Linked DNA regions of Homo sapiens: region 2 is linked to region 1. A link means that fine-mapping ties the variant in region 1 to the plasma level of a protein whose gene starts in the linked region. Region 1 holds a variant in brackets. A gene starts in the other region. All regions are shown on one strand. Distances are between the middles of the regions.

Region 1 (2,922 bases):
AATAGAATCAGGAAAAATTAGTGCATTGAAAACATCTGACAAAATCTAACATACTTTCATAACAAAAAACTACCCAGAAACCTGGAGTAGAACAGAACTTTCTCCACATAATAGAAGGCATTTGTAAAAAATTCATAGCTAAATCATACACAAAAGTGAAAGACAAAAGTTTCCCAATAAAATCAGGAACAAAATAGGGTTGCCCACTTTCACCACTGCTATTGAAAAGTGTACTGAAAGTTTTAGCTGGAGCAATTAGGCAAAATTAAGAAATAAAAGGCATTACAATTGGAAATGAAACACGGAAACTACTTTGTAGAATACATGATCCTTTATATAAACATCGCAAGAGATCCACATAAAAGCTACTAATTTGCCATATACATAAATCAAATCAAACAGAAAGGACATCCACACCAAAAACCCATCTGTACATCACCATCATCAAAGACCAAAAGTAGATAAAACCACAAAGATGGGGAAAAAACAGAACAGAAAAACTGGAAACTCCAAAAAGCAGAGCGCCTCTCCTCCTCCAAAGGAACGCAGTTCCTCACAAGCAACAGAACAAAGATGGATGGAGAATGACTTTGACAAGCTGAGAGAAGGCTTCAGACGATCAAATTACTCTGAGCTAAGGGAGGACATTCAAACCAAAGGCAAAGAAGATGAAAACTTTGAAAAAAATTTAGAAGAATGTATAACTAGAATAACCAATACAGAGAAGTGCTTAAAGGAGCTGATGGAGCTGAAAACCAAGGCTCGAGAACTACGTGAAGAATGCAGAAGCCTCAGGAGCCGATGCAATCAACTGGAAGAAAGGGTATCAGTGATGGAAGATGAAATGAATGAAATGAAGCGAGAAGGGAAGTTTAGAGAAAAAAGAATAAAAATAAATGAGCTAAGCCTCCAAGAAATATGGGACTATGTGAAAAGACCAAATCTACGTCTGACTGGCATACCTGAAAGTGATGGGGAGAATGGAACCAAGTTGGAAAACACTCTGCAGGATATTATCCAGGAGAATTTCCCCAATCTAGCAAGGCAGGCCAACACTCAGATTCAGGAAATACAGAGAATGCCACAAAGATACTCCTCGAGAACAGCAACTCCAAGACACATAATTGTCAGATTCACCGAAGTTGAAATGAAGGAAAAAATGTTAAGGGCAGCCAGAGAGAAAGGTCGGGTTACCCTCAAAGGGAAGCCCATCAGACTAACAGTGGATCTCTCTGCAGAAACCCT[A/G]GAAGCCAGAAGAGAATGGGGGCCAATATTCAACATTCTTAAAGAAAAGAATTTTCAACCCAGAATTTCATATCCAGCCAAACTAAGCTTCAAAAGTGAAGGAGAAATAAAATCCTTTACAGACAAGCAAATGCTGAGAGATTTTGTCACCACCAGGTCTGCCTTGCAAGAGCTCCTGAAGGAAGCACTAAACATGGAAAGGAACAACCGGTACCAGCCACTGCAAAATCATGCCAAAATGTAAAGACCATCGAGACTAGGAAGAAACTGCATCAACTAACGAGCAAAATAACCAACTAACATCATAATGACAGGATCAAATTCACACATAACAATATTAACTTTAAATGGAAATGGACTAAATGCTCCAATTAAAAGACACAGACTGGCAAATTGGATAAAGAGTCAAGACCCATCAGGGTGCTGTATTCAGGAAACCCATCTCACATGCAGAGACACACATAGGCTCAAAATAGAAGGATGGAGGAAGATCTACCAAGCAAATGGAAAACAAAAAAAGGCAGGGGTTGCAATCCTAGTCTCTGATAAAACAGACTTTAAACCAACAAAGATCAAAAGAGACAAAGAAGGCCATCACATAATGGTAAAGAGATCAATTCAACAAGAACAGCTAACTATCCTAAATATATATGCATCCAATACAGGAGCACCGAGATTCATAAAGCAAGTCCTGAGTGACCTACAAAGAGACTTAGACTCCCACACATTAATAATGGGAGACTTTAACACCTCACTGTCAACATTAGACAGATCAACAAGACAGAAAGTCAACAAGGATACCCATACCCAGGAATTGAACTCAGCTCTGCACCAAGTGGACCTAATAGACATCTACAGAACTCTCCACCACAAATCAACAGAATATACATTTTTTTCAGCACCACACCACACCTATTCCAAAATTGACCACATACTGGGAAGTAAAGCTCTCCTCAGCAAATGTAAAAGAACAGAAATTATAACAAACTATCTCTCAGAACACAATGCAATCAAACTAGAACTCAGGATTAAGAATCTCACGCAAAACCACTCAACTACATGGGAACTGAACAACCTGCTCCTGAATGACTACTGGGTACATAACGAAATGAAGGCAGAAATAAAGATGTTCTTTGAAACCAACGAGAACAAAGACACAACATACCAGAATCTCTGGGATGCATTCAAAGCAGTGTGTAGAGGGAAATTTATAGCACTAAATGCCCACAAGAGAAGCAGGGAAGATCCAAAATTGACACCCTAACATCCCAATTAAAACGACTAGACAAGCAAGAGCAAACACATTCAAAAGCTAGCAGAAGGCAAGAAATAACTAAAATCAGAGCAGAACTGAAGGAAATAGAGACACAAAAAACCCTTCAAAAAATTAATGAGTCCAGGAGCTGGTTTTTTGAAAGGATCAACAAAATTGATAGACCGCTAGCAAGACTAATAAAGAAGAAAAGAGAGAAGAATCAAGTAGACGTGATAAAAAATGATAAAGGGGATATCACCATCGATCCCACAGAAATACAAACTACCATCAGAGAATACTACAAACACCTCTACGCAAATAAACTAGAAAATCTAGAAGAAATGGATAAATTCCTGGACACATACACTCTCCCAAGACTAAACCAGGAAGAAGTTGAATCTCTGAATAGACCAATAACAGGC
Region 2 (2,922 bases), 11 Mb before region 1:
AGGATAATTCTAATGATTGTGGCTTCATAGATTATGAAGATAAAATGAATTAATTCATGAAAAAAATTTGAGCAGTGCCTGGCAAGTGCTTAGTGAGGGCCAGCTAACTGTTATAGTATTATTGGACAAGTTATGGTGGAGGACAGTGGTTTCATATTTGCTGCTTATAATCACTTTCCACAATAGCTTGTGGACTCTGACATATCCCTGGTACCTCTATCTCAAGTTTCCTCCTGTACTTCCAGGCAGAATCACAGAGTACAAGGAGCCTCTTCATCTACAAAATGAGGATGGTAACCTCAACCTCATAGAATGGTTGTAAGGTATAAAGGGACACATATGCATGATTTATAGGTGCTCAGTAAATGTTATTCTTGTCCACCTTCTAAACCTTTGCTACTAAAACTATGGTCTGTGGCCCAGCACCATCAATATCACCTGGAAGCAGTTAGAAAATCAGAGTCTTAGTCCCACACCACAGCTGCTAACTCAGAATCTGTGTTTTAACAAGATCCTTAGGTGATTTGTGTGCACATTAATATGAGAGAAGCACGGCTCTAGCGTTTCAAGGTCATCCAGTCCAACAGTCTCTTCAGGATACAGATGCAGAAAGGAAAACTAAGAGAGAGGAAGAGATTTACATGATGTTACACTTAGTTTTGTCAAGACATCTAAATTCCAAGCTAGGGTTCTTTACACTAAAGTTTCAAAACTGTCTGTAATTCAGCTTCTCTGGGTAGGAAAGGATGGAGAAAAAGAAGAGGTCCTGTTTTCTAGGAAAGGACAGAACAGAATTAGGAGGTACCCAGGGTAGCTATTTTCATTTGAATCTCACAGATGATTTCAGAGGTCCCTAAATTGCATTCATGTATTTATTTATATTTAATAAACACTTCTATACCACTACGTCCCAGAAATCATTCTAAGCTCCTTACGCATATGAACACTATTTTGTATATTAACTCATATAATACCTAAAACAATCCTATGAGTAAGGGATTGTTATTTTCCCCACTTTACAGAAGAGAATCCTGAGCCACAGAGTGGTTAAGTAACTTGCCTTAGGTCACAAAGCTAGTAAGGGGCAGACCTAGGATTCCAATTCTGGCAGTTTTCCCTTCTACTAGGCCTGAGCCCACAGTAGCCTATTCTGGTCTTAACTCTAGCTAGGGGACAGATATGAAGTTCATTTAGGACTTTTTCTACTTCAGCTTAGGGCCTATTCAGCCCTTTCCCACCAAAGGCTTTTCAGCTGCTTTACTGAGACTCCACCCTGAGCTGGCATATAGCCTCTGCCCAGTACAGGAGGGGTCCCTCAGAGACTGATAATGGCTCATTTCTTGGTCCTCTCCCCCATACCTTGGCTCAAGCTTTTCTTTTCCTCTACCCATTAGGCTATTTCCTCTTTGACCTCTTTTAAAAGCTCCTAATCTATTGAAAAGCATTTGCTTTCCTTGTCAGACTCTTTTTTACTCCTTCTTCCTACTGGCCCCCAAACCCTTCCAGTCTGCACCTCATAGTTTGGCCCTTAATTCTCTGTCTCTGTCCGGTCTACTTTATCTTCCCAGCTCTGCAAACTCTTCAAGGTCAGGGACTAGTAACGTTTCGGGATTTATCCACCGCTGCCTCTGAGATCATGGATTAATAAACTCCCAAAGTGTCATTGTTTGAAGTGCCCTTAGAGACTACGTAGCTCAACCCCCTCCTTGTACAGACACTCAGGGGCCCAGAGAAGATGGATGATCAAAGCTGAGTGCCGAATCCAATTTTCCTTTATTTTTAGTGGTCTTTTCCCTGCTTCATGTCTGCTCTCTTCCTCCTGTCACAATCCTATCTACCCTTCTGAATGGAGGAGTATTTTTTTGAGGCAGATGCAGAGCTGGAAAGCGGCTTCTCCATGTGTCTGAAAATTTTGGCTTTTCCAACAATAATTTTCCCTGTCAAACTCCAAGCCTGCTAAGTCATGAATAAACTTTGATGAGCTGAGCTGCATTCAGCTGTGAAAGAGACAACTTGATGCTTTCTCTGGACCCCACTCCCTGGCCCTCTACTCTCTGGCCCCCGCTTCAGTCCCAGGAGATTTGCAGCTCCTGCCATACCAGTGGCTGGGTCACTGTTCTTCAGCCTCACATTGTTCCTCTCAAAGGCAGTTTCTTTTCGTAGCCACGCCTAGGCACTCAAACAGTCCAATAGCTGCTCTAGGAACTTCACGGGGGCGGAAGAGGTAAGCTTACCGTGAAAGGAGGGTTTGGGCTGTTGTTGCTACACGTGGATGTGAAATGAGTCAAGCGGAACTTTGATTACAAGGAATTTCATATACTGTGAGTGTGTATGCAGGCTGGGGGCTGAGGGGCGGGGGCTGAGGGGCGGGGCTGATGGGCGGGTCTGAGGGGCGGGGGCTGAGGGGCGCGGGGTGAAGGGCGGGGGGTGACGGGAGGGGGCTGGGTGAGATGTGTGCTCTGCGCTGAGGTGGATTTGTACCGGAGTCCCATTTGGGAGCAAGAGCCATCTACTCGTCCGTTACCGGGTGAGTGTGGGAACACCCCCTGGTGTGGCAAGGCGGCTGGGACCTGCGGCATCTAGGTGCAGAAGTACAGAATCAGGTCAGGATGATCCTGCTAGGGTACCGCAAAATCAGAACAATTGGGAAGGCGCCCTGTGGCTGGCTGTCAGTCCATCCATTTGTGTCCGGAGAGCGCTTTCTGAGGTATCAGGGATCTGGGCTGACATCTCTAGGATCTTGGCGAGCCATTTCCTGTAGGCTCTTACTGGACCTGCATTGCCTCTGAGAACATGCCTGGACGTGTCCAACAACCTTGAGCATCTAGGGTTGGGAGATAAAGAAGAGAAGGAGGCTGGGTGTTAGTGAAGGCGGGGACAGTGGATCAGACTTGTGGAGCATCCTGAGGAAAGCAGAACTGC

Alleles and levels. Positions count from the first base shown, and alleles are read on the strand shown. Strength reflects both the effect of a copy and how common the allele is.
As copies of A replace G in region 1, the plasma level of the protein whose gene starts at base 2,444 in region 2 goes up (moderate association).

The links. A credible set is the group of variants that fine-mapping cannot tell apart. PIP is the chance, under the fine-mapping model, that this variant and not a neighbour inherited with it causes the effect. The UK Biobank Pharma Proteomics Project read protein levels with antibody pairs (Olink). The fine-mapping took linkage between variants from a reference panel, not from the people measured, so its PIPs are less certain.
Region 2: it holds the start of EDA2R, and the variant in region 1 is the best candidate, but not a certain one, in a credible set for the plasma level of the EDA2R protein (UK Biobank, PIP 0.87).

What each region holds. Positions count from the first base shown.
Region 1 is chrX:56,078,820-56,081,741 of GRCh38, reverse strand. All of the region lies in intron 1 of LOC124900486 (a long non-coding RNA gene), which reads right to left. It also overlaps a transcript of KLF8 not described here. Among named protein-coding and RNA genes, the nearest start is that of KLF8, 150 kb to the left of the region's middle. The variant A/G (reference allele first, on the strand shown) is at 1,246.
Region 2 is chrX:66,638,600-66,641,521 of GRCh38, reverse strand. EDA2R (ectodysplasin A2 receptor) reads left to right here and starts at 2,444. Exons shown (of 7, transcript NM_021783.5): 1 at 2,444-2,527. RefSeq lists an enhancer at 2,624-2,922.